2 separate regions of the Homo sapiens genome follow, and region 2 is linked to region 1. The links come from fine-mapping of genetic effects on plasma protein levels. A gene starts in region 1. The other region holds a variant in brackets. All regions are shown on one strand. Distances are from middle to middle. Region 1 holds the start of POFUT1 (protein O-fucosyltransferase 1). Region 2 holds the start of KIF3B (kinesin family member 3B).

Region 1 (8,328 bases):
GGAATATAACCATCTCCAGGTTACTTATGAAGAAACCCAAGCATACAGAATCTAGATAACATCTGAGGTCACATAGCTAGTAAGCAAACAGAAAGAGGAGAAACACTAACATCTAAACAGTGGGTGGAGAGAAAGGAGCCCCTGATACAGTGGAAAGAGGAAAATGCTGAGAGGTTAGATTGTAGCAGGGACAGGTGGTGTCTTGGAACAGGGAAGTTCAGGAAGGAGAAGCTTGCAGGGTCAAGTGCCAGTGGGAGGTCAGGTGAGAGAAAGACTGGGAAATAACCCCTGCCAATTTGGAGGTCACTGGTGACCTCAGTGAGAATGCTAACAGTGGCGAAGAAGAGCCTTGTTGGAGCAGGTTAGTAAGCCACAGAAAGCAAGGAAGTGGGGACTTGGAAAGACAACTGGCTGAGAAGGCAAGGAGACAGAGGCAAGCAAGCCAGAGGGAGATGGATGGGCAATGTCTACACTGTAATAGTGAGTGCGAGGCCAGGCGCAGTGGCTTATGCCTATAATCCCAGCACTTTGGGAGGCCAAGGCAGGCACATCATGAGGTCAAGAGATTGACACCATCCTGGCCAACATGGTGAAACCCTGTCTCTACTAAAAATACAAAAATTAGCTGGGCGTGGTGGTGCGCCTGTAGTCCCAGTTAATCAGGAGGCTGAGGCAGGAGAATCGCTTGAACCCGGGAGGCAGAAGTTGCAGTGAGCTGAGATCGTGCCACTGCACTCCAGCCTGGCAAGAGAGCAAGACTCCATCTCAAAAAAAAAAAAATAGTGAGTGCGAAATTATCAGAACATCAATGGTTTCCATTAACTGAGGACTCTAGGATCTGTACGTTGATAAGCTCAGTTGATTCTAAGAGGGAGGCGGCATATGACAACACTGAAGGCGTGTTACTGCCACTGACACATTCAGTCCTTACCACAAGAGGGTAACAAGAATCATTACCAGCTTATTTTTAAAATGAGGACACTGAGGCACAAAGAGGTAAAGTACCCTGTCCAGGCCATGCAACTAGTAAGAACCCAAGTCAGACTATGATCTCTGGTACTCTGGCTTTTGACTGCTGCTCAAAACCTCTGTAAATACTGGCATGCAAAGGAAAAAGTAAAATCTATGCAGAGAAAAGGTTGTAAGAATGAAATTAAGTGTTTTGTTCACACTAAGTATTATTTCTGATGTCTATTGGAAAATTATTAAGTCAATTCATCAAATACTAATTAAGTTCCTACTGCCAGGCTCCGGGAGATACAATATGAACAACGACACAAGGTCACTGGAAGACACAAAGAATAAGCAAGGAACTGGGGGCCGGTGAGCATCGCATGACAAGGGAGCCCCTTGATGGGGTGAGAGGCAGCACTGAAGCCAGACTACCTGGGTTGTGGCCTTGGACATGTCATTAAATAACCTGTGCCTGCATGTCTCCTTTAAAATTGATAATAGCATCTGCCACCCTTGGCCAATGGAATGCACAGAGGGTAGGACCAATCAGGGAAGGAAATGGAGGCTTTAGGTTCAAGTCACAGGCTCTGGAGTCAGACAAAGATAGCTTTGAATTCCAGCTCTCCTACTCACAGGCTGTGTGATCTTGGGCAAGTTACCTAACCTCTGTAAACCCCGGTTTCCTCACAGGCAAGTGATGAGGGTGAAATGAGCTAATTCTCATGCAGCCGCACACAACAGGTGCTGGATAAATAAATGTTAGGCATTGTTATTGCAGTGAAGACAGTTCTGGCTGGAGGTAGGGAAATCTCAGAGGAGTGGGAGGTAAAGCCCAGAGGACTTGAGGGTTAAGTGTAAGTAAGCAAGACTGAGAAAGGGCGGAGAAAGGCCAAGGTCAGTGGGAAGTACTCACGTTGGTGAAAGGAGGCTTGTGATGCTGGTACTCAATCCAAGGAGGGACAGCCAAGGTACGGTTTAGCAGCTTTGCAAATGCCAGAGAGCCCAAGAAGTGATCGGCCTGGTTCCCAAAGCGCCCTGGAAATGGTACATTGCGGGTGAGGTGAGGCCTGGGGCATGGAGGGCATAGAGCATGCAGGGCTCAGAAAGGTTGTGGAGCCAGGGGTAGAAAGTCAGGGATACCAAGGAGAACTAGGGGAGCTGGCAGCATAAGAACAAGTCTGGACTCTTGGGTCTGATATCCAAGGCTCTTCAGGTCCTGCAACAACTGCTTCCGCCACTCCAGGTTTCTTGCTGTTTCCCCAACATGCTCTACAATTCCCATCCCCACCCAATGCCTCTGATCTTGCTGTCCCTCAGCCAGAAGAGCTTCTACCTCTATCTCCATTCACCTGCACATGGACGGGCAACTCGAATGCCTCATTCACTGGGCTCCTTTCACCAATCCCCTGCCATACTCACTCTCCCTCCTTTACCTCCCACCTTGGCTCTGAGCTACTTCAGTTCTTCAATTTTCCTCAAGTATCTTTGCTCACTTCCTGGCCTTCGTACTGGCTGATTCCTCAGCCTGTGAATGCCTCAGAAGCAAGGACCCTGTGTGATTCCTTTTCTTAATCCCAGCATGGCACCTGTTCATTCATTTCACAAATATGATTGAGAGGCCACAATGTGCCAGACTCTGTGCTAGGTGCTGGGATACAGGAATGAACAAGAAGGACAAGGCCTCTGCCCCTAAGGCACTCACAGTTCACTGCAGAGACACTAAACATGTAAACAAATACATGAAAAATGTTGATAATTGCCAGAAAGAGATGAAAAAAGTTTGGTGATAGGGTAATGAGGAGATTACTTGGGTAGAGGTCAGTGAAATCCTTTCTGGTGACATTTAGGCTGAGATCTAAAGGATGGGAAACAGCTGGTCAGGCAGAAATGGAGGAGAGGATTCCAGGCATAGGGACCGCCACCTGCAGCAGTGCAGACTGGAAGACCTGAGCATGTGTGAGGAACGCAAAGGAGTTAAGTGTGGCTGCAGCTGGAGGATCAGCAGAGAAGGGAGTTGTGGAGATGGCCAGTGGAGGCCACATCATTCAGGGCCCTGAAAGTCATGGTCAGGAGTCTGGAAGCCACTGGGGGCCTTAAGATCATCCACTTCCACAATGATGATCCACCATACCCATTTCAACTGTGCACCTGGCATGGTCTTTAGATTCTCCCCTACCCTGCTCTCTTTATTTTCCCTTAGTATTCATCATCCTCTATGAAACTATGTATTTATTGTTTTATGTTTACCCCTTTTTGGGTTTGCTTGTTTCGAGACAGGGTCTCACTCTGTCACCCAGGCTGGCAGTGCGGTGGCACGATCAGAGCTCACTGCAGCCTCGAATTCCTCGGCTCAAGAGATCCTCCCACCTCAGCCTCCCAAGTAGCCGCCCAGATAACTCCCAAGGGACTACAAGCACACGATACCACGCTCTGCTTTTTTTTTTTTTTTTTTTTTTTGAGATTGGATTTTCACTATGTTGCCTAGGCTGATCTCGAGCTCCTGGCTTCAAGTGATCCTGCCTCGGTCTCTCAAAGTGGTGGGATTACAGAAGTGAGCCACCGCGCCTGGCCTACTTATTCTCAATTGTTTGTCTTCCCCAACTAAAATGAAGGCTCTACAAGGACACGGAGTTTATCTTATTCACTGCGGTATTCCCAGTACAGAGAACAGGGCCCGGCACAGAATAGGTGCCCCATAAATATTTGCTGAATCAATGAAAAATCACCAGGAGCCAGCGTGGGTCAGTGACATCAAGTCCTGCCCCACTAACTCCATTTACTGGACCCTGGACTGGCTTAGACCTCAAGCAAGTCACGTAACCTCTCCCAGCCTCAGTTTTCTCATCTGTCAAATGGAAAGTTGGACACGTTGGCCCCTCTGTGCCCTTGCAACTAAGGCAGAGAGGAGAAGAGCATGCCCCGTCCCGCTCTGAGGTTCTCTCCTGGACCTGTGAAGGTGTCTCTGGGCGCATCTGAGGAGTGGCTTTTCCTCTCCCGGCCTCAGTTTCTCCATCTGAGCAGAGGGCTTGGGAGGCCTTACCCATGCAGGGGCAGTAGAGCAGGTAACCGGCCGGGTCCCAGGAGCCCGCAGGCATCCCCGGGAGCGGCAGAAGCAGCAGCAGGAAAGACACGCTCAGCGGCCGTGCCCACGCGGCGGCGCCCATGTCGGCCCGGGAACCCGAGCCAGCCGCGGCGCACAGTCGGGGAGGGAAGGAGGGACGCGAGCGCCCGCCCCGCTCCCAGCGGTCCCTGCGCGCCGCCCGCGCACCGCCCCGGCCGCTCTAGCCCGCGGGCGGGCGGGACCATAGAGATCCCGCGGCACCGCCCCCTCCACGACCCGAGCGCCCGCTCGCGCGGCTCCCACAATGCACCGCACAATGGCCCGACCGCCGCCACTACCGGGGCCTGAGGGGGCCTGGCGGAGCCCGAGCGCGGCCCGGCCCGCAGCGTGGGGCCCCGAGCGCGGTGAGTGCCGGCGAGGGCCCCAGGGGACGGCGGGGAGAGGGGCGGGAGGCCGTCTCGCTGCGTCCGCGCGCCCTGTACCCGGAGCGGCGGCGCGCCTCATCTCGGGCCCCTCAGCGCGGTCGCCCACACCCCCGACCCGGGGCCCGGTCTGCGCCAACCCGGCCCCAGATAGGCCCTGGGGTGACGAAAACTCTCCCTGGACCCCATACCTGTGTCTGGGGGACCCGAGGAAGCCACCGGTCCCCTCCCTTCCGAGACCTGGAGACGCAGTCCTGAGGGTCCCCCATTCCCGACCCCTAGGCTCCCTGGAGACCCAGATAAGGCGCTGCTGACCTTACCAGGGACCCGGGTCTGGGGGACGCAGATAAGCTGCACCTGCTCCCTCCCTCCGACACGCCTACCCAGACCCACATAACCCCCTTTCCTGCTCCAGATAGCCCGCTCTGTACCCTGTTTCATTTTCCAGACTTACATAACTCCCTTTGAGGCTTCCCTCAAATATCTGGGTCTGGAGAAGTCGAATAAGCCCCACCTGTAGTTCCCTCCTCAGTGGCCATACTCCCAGGCTTTCGACATCTTCCATCCCGTTACCCATTTTGAGACCCTCTTGAAATTCAGAGGATACACTTCTGACTATCCCCATCCCCCCAGCCTTCCAGCCCTTATAATCCCCCATTTCATTCTTGTGGGGATCCCTTAGAGACCCAGGAAAGTTGCTCATGATTCCTTCCCATCCTCGCTCTTCCTTCCCATCCCAGAGACTCCCTCCAGACTTCTCCCTGGATTTCCTTTGCTTCTCCAGCCCTCATCCACTCCCATCTCTCCCAGGCTCGGGGAATTGAACCTTTCCCACACCACAGTGGGGTGATCTAAAAGTTGGCCTGGGACCAGGCTGTGGCCCACCTTGGTGGGGAGAAAGGGGCCTGTTAGGTGGAGGATATGGGGACACCTGTGTGGGGGAATCGGTGCTTTCACCTGCAAGCTTAGCCTGTCTCCTGGCTTGTGTGTTTTTCCACCTGTCAGCCATGGGACTGTGTGTAGAGTCTGGTCTTGGGTTTCTAACCTTTCTCTCCTAAGGTGAGGCCACCAGATTGGGAGCGGGGGTGTCGAATCACGTTTTCTCCCCATGAAAATGGGGTTGTGATGAGTTGCAGCCATTTGTTCAAGGCCTCCCCAGGAGTGGGAGGCAGCAGGAATCTGAGGAAATAGTGAATCAAAGAGACTCCAAAGAGGGCCCATCTACACTGACAGAAGAATTAGCAGCCTGAGAGTAAATCCAACCCCTGTTAATCCTGTTTGATGTTTCTTGGAATGGTGCAAGTCATTGAGACTCTCCAGCCTCCCTGTAATTTAATTCTCCCACCACTCTGGAGTGGGCGGGGGGGAAGGGGGCGACAGCATTCCCATTTCCCCTCTTCTCACTGTTTTCCAGCCAACCAGTGTGTTTTAGGATTTGTTTCTGGTTCTGAGATCAGGATCTGTTTTTTGTTTTGTTTTGTTTTGTTTTTTCTTTCCTCTAAGTCTATTTATAATTTCCCAGTTGCTATTTTGGGTTCTGCTTAAGGGAAGATTCTATCCCAAGGAACGTTCTGGGTCTATTTCCTCCGGCAGGTGTTGAATTGAGTTCTTCAGATCCCCAAGTAACTCTTGGGCAGGAGGATAAAAGCTATTTTAGGGTAGTCACTGAAGTGGAGCTGTTAATCCTCTGTGGGTCTCTTTAGTTAAGAACACTCAAAGATTAACCCTTTCCTTGTGCAGGGGTGTTATCTCTCAACTGTTTTTTAGGGGGGAGTGAGGAGAATTTGAGTGTGGCAGCAGAAGGTGGAAACATGCAACTCAATACAAAGACAAAGATAATAGCTCTCTTTTGTTGGGTACTTCTAGCAGGCCAAGCTCTGTGCTGAGCCCTTTGCATACCTCACTAAAATAATCCTTACAGCAAGCCTGTGAGGTAAGTATTTTTAGCTTTACAGATGAGGAAACAGGCTAATAATGGAGAAAGAACGCAGTTTCTATAGAGATGATGTAACACCATAAAAACTATAGTTTCATCAGAGAGCAGCAGGCATCATGGCCCATAACAGGGGACGGACAGACTGGGGAGAAATATGTCTCAGTTTCAGCTTTCAAAGAGGACCATACAGAGTTTTTAGCAAGCATTCCTGTTTGGGATATGGAGCCCTAATAATACAAGAGAGTATAGGAAAGTGGCTCTCTGCTTAAGAGAGAACTCTGGCCCAGGAGATGGTGCCTGGAGGGAGGTAAAGTAAGGGGCTCTTTAAAGGGGATGTGCCGAGGGTTAGTTGTGAGGGAAAAGGGGAAGACTGCATTCTGGGGGAGATGTTGGGAAAGGAAGGAAACTCACTCTGAGGCCTGAGAAGTAACATTAAAGAGGAAAAAAAGAAGTACTATTCAGGCCTCATGCGGAAAAAGAGGCAGACACAGCCGAGACCTCAGAGAAGGCACTGCATGTATTCAGAGCACACATTTTGTATCAGCCACTTTCAAGAGTATTATTTCATTTAATCCTCTATACGAATCTTACAGGTAAGGAAAATAAATCCGTATTTTAGAAATTGAGGAAACTGAGGTTCAGAGAAATAAAGTAACCTGCCTATGGTTTCCCAGCCAGTAAGTGGCAGCTCTTCTGATAGCAAGTCCAAGGTTCTTTCCCCTTTCAGATCAGGCACTAGAAAGAATCTTAGGCTGAAAATATACTGAGTTGTGCCAGTAACTGGGAAGGATTGTGTTTGTTTTATGGAAACAGGTTCTGTCAGCTTCTCTATAGTCTATAGTTGTTAAGATTAAAATGTGAGACCAGAAGAGCAGCTTTGAAAGAGAAGTAGAATTCTTTCACAGTTTTGCTGAGGAAGGACAAGTCTGAAGGAACAGGCCTTCTGCTTATGTAAGACAAACCCAGGAATCTTTCTGGATCAGAGGAGTTTTCAGACAAAGGGCAGAGAGAGACTAGATCCCCAAAAGGGTTCCTAGGTAACACTAGCAGCTTTGGTTATCCAAGAGGCTGCTGGTGACTGTAGGTAGGGACTTCCTGTGCCTTTTGAAAAGTGTAGGAGAGTAGGATCAGGGTGTTGGCTCTTTTCTTTGTGAAGACATAGCCCCATTAAAAGCAGATCAAGGTGAGCACATGGCTGCTGCTTTCCTCCTTTGGTTCTATCAGTACAAGCTCCTTAGCCACCACCAGCCTCTTTCCTAGAAGCCCATTACTCACTCTTTCAGTAGCAGCCTACTAAACTATTGTGTCTTGTTTGTGCTTGTTCAGGAGAACAGATGAGGTGGACGTGTGGGAGGTGGGGACGTAATGTTCTCTTTCTGAGTTTGTGTGGAGTTTCCAGGGCTAGGCTCCTCTCTCACATCAGCCAAATTGATGTGACTTGTTTCCTTCTGGCTGCCATTCCCAACTTTCCAGAGGCTGAGGTGCATGATTTCAAATTGAAGGGGGAGTAGAATTTGACTTTGAAGGTAGGGGTAATTCCCTCCAATCTAAACATGCACACTCGAGCACACTCTCTGCTCAATTCCAAGGTGCATAGTAATTGCTGGTATTACAAACAGGTAATTCCACCCTTGCAAAGGAGGAGGGGACTTAAACAATGAAAGCCAGACGTCACAGGCCTTTGAGGTTTATAGTGAAGCAGGCACATATGCCATAATGACTTGAAGGCTCAAGTGGGACTAGTTTTTAGTGCTACCTACCCCTCCCCAGCATGTGATTCATGCAAAATGCAGCCACCTTAATGCAGATCTTTCTAGACAAATCTACACTCGTGATGGGGACGTGTTTATCATATTACATCGCAGTGTTTCTTCAACAAGAGGAATGGTTCCTGAACAGGACGTAGCTCATGTTAATGATGAGCAAAGCTCTCTGGGGCATGAACCCGCTGATCC
Region 2 (8,328 bases), 66 kb before region 1:
ACGTCTCTAACTCGCTCAGACTTCAAACTGCCCTCTTGGTCTCCCATCTAGGGTGCCCTAAGAATTCTCCCTCTCCCCATTTAGGGCACTTTCACATACACTTCTCATTATCTTTACCACTCTGAGCAGCAATGTTAGGACCCCATTGAATAAACAGGTCAGCTAAGGCCAGGGAGGTGAAAAGACTTGCCCAAGGTCACACAGCAAGCCCAGCACAGCGCCGAGGTTCGGACCCCAGGCTCTCGCTTCCCCGCCCTCCTCCCAAACTGGGGCCCTGACCACCGCCTCAGGGCCCCCAGGTGGGCTGCGACCCAAGGTGGCCGTGTCTGGGGGTCGGGCCGCGACCCTGCCAGGGGAAGGAGGGGCAAGGCCGTCCGGACTACCAAAGGATGCCTAGGAGGCAGGGCAGAGGATGCTCCGGCTCGCGGGACAGCAAAGCCAGGCAGAGGCGCGGGCGCAGGTCGCAGGGAAAACCCCAGGCGGCCACAGGATTAGCCCTGCTCGGTGGGCGCCCGGCCCCTCCGACTCACCTGAGGCCCGAGCCGAAAGCGGGCGGCGGCGGCGGCGGCGGCGGCGGCGGCGGCGGCGGGGGCGGCGAACCCCTGGCTCAGCCATTCCCCGCTGCCCCGGATGGGGAGAGACAGTGGCCGCTCACTTCCTTAGCAACCTGGCTCGGCGACCCACTTCCTTAGCAACCGGTGTCAATTTCAATAACTTTATTGGCACACGAGCAGAGGACAGGGAAAGCCGGCTGGAGGGGTCTGGGCGGGGCTCAGGTCGGTGCTGGTGTTTAGCGGGGGCCCAACACACCTCGGTCTCCTCACCCACCTAAGCGGGGAGAGTGGCGCACAACGTGGCCTGACTCCATCCTCTGGTATCTCGTGCCTCAGTTTCCCATCTGTAAATGGAACACACGCGATTTCAGCCGCCGTTCAACCTTTCTAAAAGCTTTCACATCCATTATCTGACTGGTGTCTCAAACTGCTACTGAGGTAACTCCCATTTAGGGTGCCCCCAGTGACTCAATACGAACACCTATAGGCACCCTTGTTGTAGCTTTCCTGTCCTTCACCCAATCCAGTCAGTCACAACCGCCCCAGGCAAGGCCAGGCCACGCTCATCTCTAGCCTGCCTGAAATATCTGGTCTGTTTCCATTCTTTTGTCCAGCTCTGTCCGAACAATCCATTTTCCATAAGGTGGCCAGAGTAATTATTTAAAACAGATCATGCGGCCAGGTGCGGTGGCTCCCGCTGTAATCCCAGCACTTTGGGAGGCTGAGGCAGGTGAATCACCTGAGGTCAGGAGTTCGAGACCAGCTTGGCCAACATGGCGAAACCCCGTCTCTAATAAAAATACAAAAAATTAGCCGGGCGTGGTGGCGCATGCCTGTAGTCCCAGCTACTCGGGAGGCTGAGGCAGGAGAATCGCTTGAACCCGGGAGGCAGGGGTTGCAGTGAGAGAGATGGCACCACTGCACTCCAGCCTGGGCGACAACAGCGAAACTCCGTCTCAGATATAAAGATTAAAATAAATAAATAAATAAATAAATAAATAAAACAGATCATGCCACTTTCTGATTAATACTCGATTTAATGGAGTCTCATTGCTCTTAGAATCAAATATGAAGTCCTTATTACTTCCTGCAAAATTCGTTAAAACTCTATTCCAACCACACTGGCCTAGAAGGGCAGGTTCCAACCCCCATGGAACTTACACCTGCTGTTCCCCACTAAATAGAAACTGCATAAGAGCAGTCTTTTATTTGTTCACTCTTGTATCCACCATGCCTGGAACCAAGCTTAGTCAATAGTAGTTGCTGAACAAATATGTTTTGCTCCTTGAATAAATGAATACCTGAGATGGTCTTCTTCATCTGCCTACAACTACTTTTTGCCTGTTGTGGCAGATATTGCTACTTCCTCTCAAAAACGTTATTTCTTCCTGCTCCTGGACACACAACTAGACAGTATTTCCCAGCCTTCCTTACAGTTCAGACCAAGTTCTGGCCAATTAAATGTGATGTGTGCTATTCTCAGGCCTGGCCCATTAAAACTCCCACATAATTTGATTTACACTTTCTCTACAGTGAAGAAGTTTATTTTTAAATAAAATAATAAAGGAAATACCAAAAGAGACTGCACCCAGCCTCTTTTGGTATTTCCTGAAGCTAATAATTGCCTCATTTTTTCCCCCCTTTCATTAGCTTTCTTTGCAGATATTGTTAATTTTTTCCTATGTGGTTAATAAATTAGACAAAATAATCAGCAGTGATTTTTCCAGATGTGTAACATAACAATTCGGCTAGGCATGGTGGCTCATGCCCATAATCCCAGCACCTTGGGAGGCTGAGGCAGGCAGATCACCCTGAGGTCAGGAGTTCAAGACCAGCCTGGCCAACATGGAGAAACCACGTCTCTACTAAAAATACAAAAATCAGCCAGGAGTGGTGGCAGGCACCTGTAATCCCCACTACTTTGGAGGCTGAGGCAGGAGAATTGCTTGAACCTAGGAGGTGGAGGTTGCAGTGACCCGAAATAACCCTATTGCACTCTAGCTTGGGTGACAAGAGCAAAACTCCATCTCACAAAAACAACAACAACTTAAAAAAAAAAAAAAAGTTCATGAGTTCTCTTTTGTTTTTTTCTCCTGAAGGCTTCAGCTCTGATCTGGACCAGTGCTCTCCAGGCCTACTGCACAGCTGTCATACTGAACTTTCCTATATCCTACACCTGGTTGGGATTCCCTGTGCCCTGGACCTTGTGTCTCAAACTTCTAGATTGTGGATTTACTCTGTCATCTCTGTGCAGCACATCTTTCTGTAGATTCCTGAGAAAGGTTGCAAAGAAGCAAATATATTTAGTCCTTGTATGTCTAAATATGCATTTATACTGTTTTCACACTTGATTAATAGTTTAGCAGGGTATAGAAATCTAGGCTGAAGGCCAGGCGCCATGTCTTATGCCTGTAATCCCAGCACTTTGGGAGGTCGAGGCAGGCAGATCACCTGAGGTCAAGTGTTTGAGACCAGCCTGGCCAACATGCTGAAACCTTGTCTCTACTAAAAATACAAAAAAAACATTAGCTGGGCATGGTGGCACATGCCTGTAGTCCCAGCTACTCGGGGAGGCTGAGGCAGGATAATCACTTGAACCCAGGAGGCAGAGGTTGCAGTAAGCCAAGATTGCACCACTGCACTCCAGCCTGAGCGACAGAGGGAGCCTCCATTTCAAAAAAAAAA[AAAAAAAAG/G]AAATCTAGGCTGAAAATTATTTCTCTCAGAATTTTTAAAACATTGCATTATTGTTTCTAGTATCCAGATTTAAGACATCTAATGCCATTCTTAATCCTGTTGCTTTATATGTGTCTTGTTCTTTTTTTATTTTTAATCTTTGAAAACTTTTAGGCTATCATCTTTATCCATAATGTTGTATTTGATGATGACTCCCCTCAGTGAGGCTTTTCCTCACTTGTGTTAGCTGGGCCTTTTCAATCTGGAGACTTATATCCCTCTAATCTAGGAAATTTTCTTGTATTATTTTTTCGATAATTTTCTCCCCTCCTATTTTTTTTTCCCCTGAAACAGTGTTGTGCTATGTTGCACAGGCTGGAATGCAGTGGCATGATCATGGCTCACTGCAGCTTCAAGTGATCCTGCCACCTCAGCCTCCCGAGTAGCTAGGACTACAGGTGCATACCACCATGCCTGAGTAATTTTTCTATTTTTTGTAGAAATGGGGTCTCACTGTGTTGCCCAGCTGGTCTCAAACTCCTGGGCTCAAGCAATCCCCCTGCCTCGGCCTCCCAAACTGTTGGGACTACAGGAATGAGACACCAGACTTGGCTCTCCCCTCCATTTTTTTCTCTTTCTGGAATTTCTCTTAGTCAGAAGTTATACTTTCCAAACTGAGTTTCTAATTTTCTCTGTTTTTCTCTTATTGTCCCTCTTTTTGGCTCTTTTGTTCTACTCTGTGGGAGATTTCCATCCATATCTTTATTTTTAGTGTCTATCTCTTCTATGGAAGAATCTGGGCTCACCTTTTAGTCATCAAATCAATATTCCCTGCAGACATTTGGGTCATAACTTCCTCCCCCTGTTAAGTCAGTTACTACTTCCCCTTCTGTCCCTGTTTTCTAAAAACTTGCTGAAATCCCTGGGCCACTAATGTCTCCTTTTCATTCCTATTCATGTTCTGGGTTAATACATTTTTTATTCCTTATTGCCATATAGATGGGGTTCGAGGGAGAAAAAAATAAATACGCATCATCAATCCACTATGTTTAACTGGATGTGTTTACTGCTATTTAACAAAAATGTATTGTGTTCTTCAAAACAGCTAGAAGACCTGAAATGTACCCAACACATAGAAATGATAAATACTTGGGTGATAGATAACCTAAATACCCTGACTTTATCATTACACATTCTATGCATGTAACAAAATTGCACATGTACCCCATAAATATGTACAAAAACTATTTAAAAATTTTTTTAAACAGGTAGGTAAAAGGTATGAACAGATAGTTCAGAGAAAAGGAATAGAAAATATTGCTTTTAAACATAGGAAAAGGAAAGATACTTATGCTTACTCATATTAAAGAAATGAAAATTAAAACAACTTTTTTTTTTTTTGAGACAGAATATTGCTCTGTTGCCCAGGCTGGAGTGCTGTGGCGCAATCTCAGCTCACTGCAACCTCTACCTCCCGGGTTTAAGTGATTCTCATGCCTCAGCCTCCTGAGTAGCTGGGATTACAGACATGTGCCACCATGCCTGGCTCATTTTTGTATTTTTCAGTAGAGGCAGGGTTTCGCCATGTTGACCAGGCTGGTCTCGAATTCCTGACCTCAAGTGATCCACCTGCCTCAGCCTCCCAAAGTGCTGGGATTGCAGGCATGACCCACTCACTGCACCTGGCCGAAAAAAGAACTTTGGTAAGGCATTGTTGATGACGGTCTGGTCTTGATTCTGTCCTTAGCAAGCTGAATAAAGCTGTGTATTGAAGTGGGATTAGTAGTAGTAGCTGTACAGTTGTAGGGTGACTAACTTGTTCTAGTTTGCACAGGTCTGTCCCTGTTTTAGCACCAAAAGTTCCATGTCCCAAGAAACTCCTTAGTCCAGGCAAACTAGGATGAGTGGTCACCCTAGTATGATGGGGTAACTTCTATATTACCAAGTATGTTTCCACTCCTGGCATTTCCTTTCCATACTGTGTCCTCTTTTCCATCTAACCTGGACTGTGAGGTATTTATTGCTCAGAAAAGAGTTATTTCAGTAGAAAAATAGAGAAAGGACTTTCTGAGCCCCAGAATCTTGGGGAGGAGACTCAGGGAATGAAAGAAGTTTTGAAAAGTCAGAGTAGGGCTTCCAAACCTCTCAATTCTGGAGATTTGCTCAGTTCAATGAAGGGGAGAGATGGTGAGGATGCAAAAAGAGGAAGGAGGCCAGTGGGGCTGGAAAAAAAGGGTCCTGGAGAGATCACATGGACCAGAGCAGAGATCCTCCTTCCTACCTCCCCAAGAGCAAACTCTAGCCTAGAAATGATCTAATTCCAGCGAGCACCATTGTGTCAGTTTATCATAATAATAGATATCATAAATAATAGAAACCAATTCTGATGGTAGCAGAAAAGGAATTTATTAGCAGGGTAGTAGGAAGGCCACAAAATCACCAGGAAGTTTCTAGAAGTGGCCACTAATAAGAAAGGCGAGGCCACGTGGGACCATGTACTACTGGACTTGTATGGTGAGAACACTAGTTGCCCTGCTTTCACCATGGCTACCTGGCCATGGGCACTGTCTCAAGACCATTCTCACCTTCCCTCTCCATAAGGATTCCCCACAGTCTCGACCTCTATAACCCAAGCCTTAATTGGTTGATCCTTGATCACATGCCCATCTCCTACCTGCAGTGGAAGCTGTAAAGACAAACATCTGACCTTTTGGCTTCTATGGTAGGAAGAAGACTGCCTTCCGTTCACAAAGTAAGGAGTCCCCAGACATAGGGAGGGGGTTCTGTTGCTAAGCGGGGGGAAGAATCCCTTTATAACCAGACATCCCCTTTGCCAAGAAACTCCGTTAGCCCTCCTCCTCAACGTCAGTCAGTGAGGACCCTCCTCCCCAGTGGCAGGCATGTCGCCCAGGGACCACCCAGCTGGAATTAAGCCCACTGTGTTATAAAATTTTGCTCAGTCTCCATCTGAGTTGTCCTGTGAGGATGCCCCACTTTAGTGACTAAGATAACCCAAATCCTGTATGACAGAGAAAGGCACTAGATACCTGGCGACTGGGTGGCAGCAGGGGAGTGTGGGAAAGGGCATGCTTGCATCTATCATGGATGGGGATGAATGGAGGCCAAACCAGGAGAAAGGTAAAACATAGCCCAGACACCCATGGATGGTTTTATTATGATCTCATCCAGGAAAAATAACTTCCGATGAACTCTCTACAAAGCTGACAAGTGGCAGATGGCCTGGCTCCCCATGCAAGGGTAAAATCACGATGTTTTCTTTCTTCTCTCACATTTGAGAGCAGCGCTGTCCAACAGATCTTTCCACCGTGGTGGACATGTTCTATATCTGTGCTGTCCAATAAGGCAGCCAACAGCCACATGTGGCTATTGAGCACTTGAAATGAGTCTAGTGCTACTGAAAAACTGAATTGTATTTATTTAATTTTAATTAATTTATGCCTAAGCAGCCACATGCAGCTAGTGGTTATCACATTGGACAGTGCATCTCTGAGCTATGAAAATGACAAGCATGGACTGCGGGGTCCAGACAGTCAAAGGTTTGAATCCCAGCTCCATTCCTTATGTGTTAGCTGAGTGACCCAGTGCACATCACTTGACCTCTCTGGGACTCACATTTCTCATATGCAAAGTGGAGCTAGAAATGCAACTGCTTAGGTTTGTTGTGAGGATTAACTAAAATATGGTCTGGGGCTGGGCACAGTGGCTCACGCCTGTAATTAGGGAGGCCAAGGCCGGTGGACTGCTTAAGCTTAGATGTTTAAGATCAGCCTGGGCAACATGGCAAAACCCTGTGTCTACAAAAAATACAAAAATTAGCCGGTCATGGTGGTGCACACCTGTAGCCCCAGCTACTCAGAAGGTTGATATGGGAGGATTGCTTGAGCCCAGGAAGTTGAGGCTGCAATCAGCTGAGATCACACCACTGCACTCCAGCCTGGGCAACAGAGCAAGATTCTGTCTCAAAAAAAAAAAAAAAAAAAAAAAAAAAAAAAAAAAAAAAAAAGATGCACTTAGTACGTTCTCCATGAATGGTGGCTGTCTTTCCTTTCTTTATCAGTGGAGTCATGGTGCCCTCCAGCAAAGCAATCACTGTAAATGTGAGAAGTCATGCTGGTGAGAGAGTTCAGTATTCCTGGAAATTTAATACCATTTGGGGAGGAGGGCTGAAGAGGGGTTGTATAAAAAGACTGCAAAGGGAACTATTTATTAGAATGCAAGGAGGTGACATCCCAGCGCCCCTTTCAGGAAGAAACAAGATGTAGGGCTTGGACTGAAGCCAAGCACCTGAGCTGTGCTTGATGCTTCTCACTTGGCGGAGTGCCCAGGTTCAGAATGGATGGAACTCTGGGACCTCAGGGAGGCTCTAAGGGCTGAGGATCAAGCTAATGGCTTCTAAATTCACATCTTTGATGTTTTCTGAAGAAAGCCAGACAGGAGTTGGCTGCTAATTGCTTCCTCCTCAGGCACTTAACTGGCTGTGTGATCTTGGGCAAGTGAGTTCACCCTCAGGACCTCGTTTCCCTGCCTGCTTCCCTCAGGGCTGCTGTGAGGGTTTACCCAGGGAATGGGTGTGAAATGCTTTCCCATTTGTAAGGCCCATACATAGTAATACTGAAATAAAGAAAACAATACTCTTTTTTTTTTTATTTTTTTGAGACACAGTCTTGCTCTTTCGCCTAGGCTGGAGTGCAGTGGCATGGTCTCGGCTCACTGCAACCTCCGTCTCCCGAGTTCAAGCGATTCTCCTGCCCCAGCCTCCCTAGTAGCTGAGATTACAGGCATGTGCCACCATGGCCAGCTAATTTTTTTTTTTTTTTTGTATTTTTAGTAGAGATGGGGTTTCACCATGGTGGTCAGCCTGGTCTCGAACTCCTTGACCTCAAATGATCCACCTGCCTCGGCCTCCCAAAATGCTGGGATTGCAGGCGTGAGCCACTGTGCCTGGCCAAGAAAACAGTGATATTAAAGTCTTAGAGCCAGGAGGAGGTCATAAAATCCCTTGACAGACCAAAACTACCACCTAGGTCCCAGGACCGGGTTTTATGTTACTTATTTGTATCCTCTGTGCTTAGCACAGTGG

Evidence for each region. PIP is the chance, under the fine-mapping model, that this variant and not a neighbour inherited with it causes the effect. Sun 2018 read protein levels with aptamers (SomaScan).
Region 2: its variant is fine-mapped to the plasma level of the POFUT1 protein (Sun 2018, PIP 0.95).

The regions. Positions count from the first base shown.
Region 1 is chr20:32,203,732-32,212,059 of GRCh38, reverse strand. POFUT1 (protein O-fucosyltransferase 1) reads right to left here and starts at 4,180. Exons shown (of 7, transcript NM_015352.2): 1 at 3,995-4,180; 2 at 1,868-1,989. The coding sequence starts at 4,118. It overlaps PLAGL2 (PLAG1 like zinc finger 2), which reads left to right and starts at 4,317. Exons shown (of 3, transcript NM_002657.3): 1 at 4,317-4,419. RefSeq lists enhancers at 3,841-3,970, 3,433-4,346, 6,262-6,311 and a silencer at 4,111-4,530.
Region 2 is chr20:32,269,968-32,278,295 of GRCh38, reverse strand. It overlaps KIF3B (kinesin family member 3B), which reads right to left and starts at 645. Exons shown (of 9, transcript NM_004798.4): 1 at 531-645. LOC124904885 (a long non-coding RNA gene) reads left to right here and starts at 753. Exons shown (of 2, transcript XR_007067561.1): 1 at 753-992; 2 at 2,654-2,877. RefSeq lists silencers at 270-449, 470-629 and enhancers at 283-793, 840-889, 7,403-7,934. The variant AAAAAAAAG/G (reference allele first, on the strand shown) is at 3,240.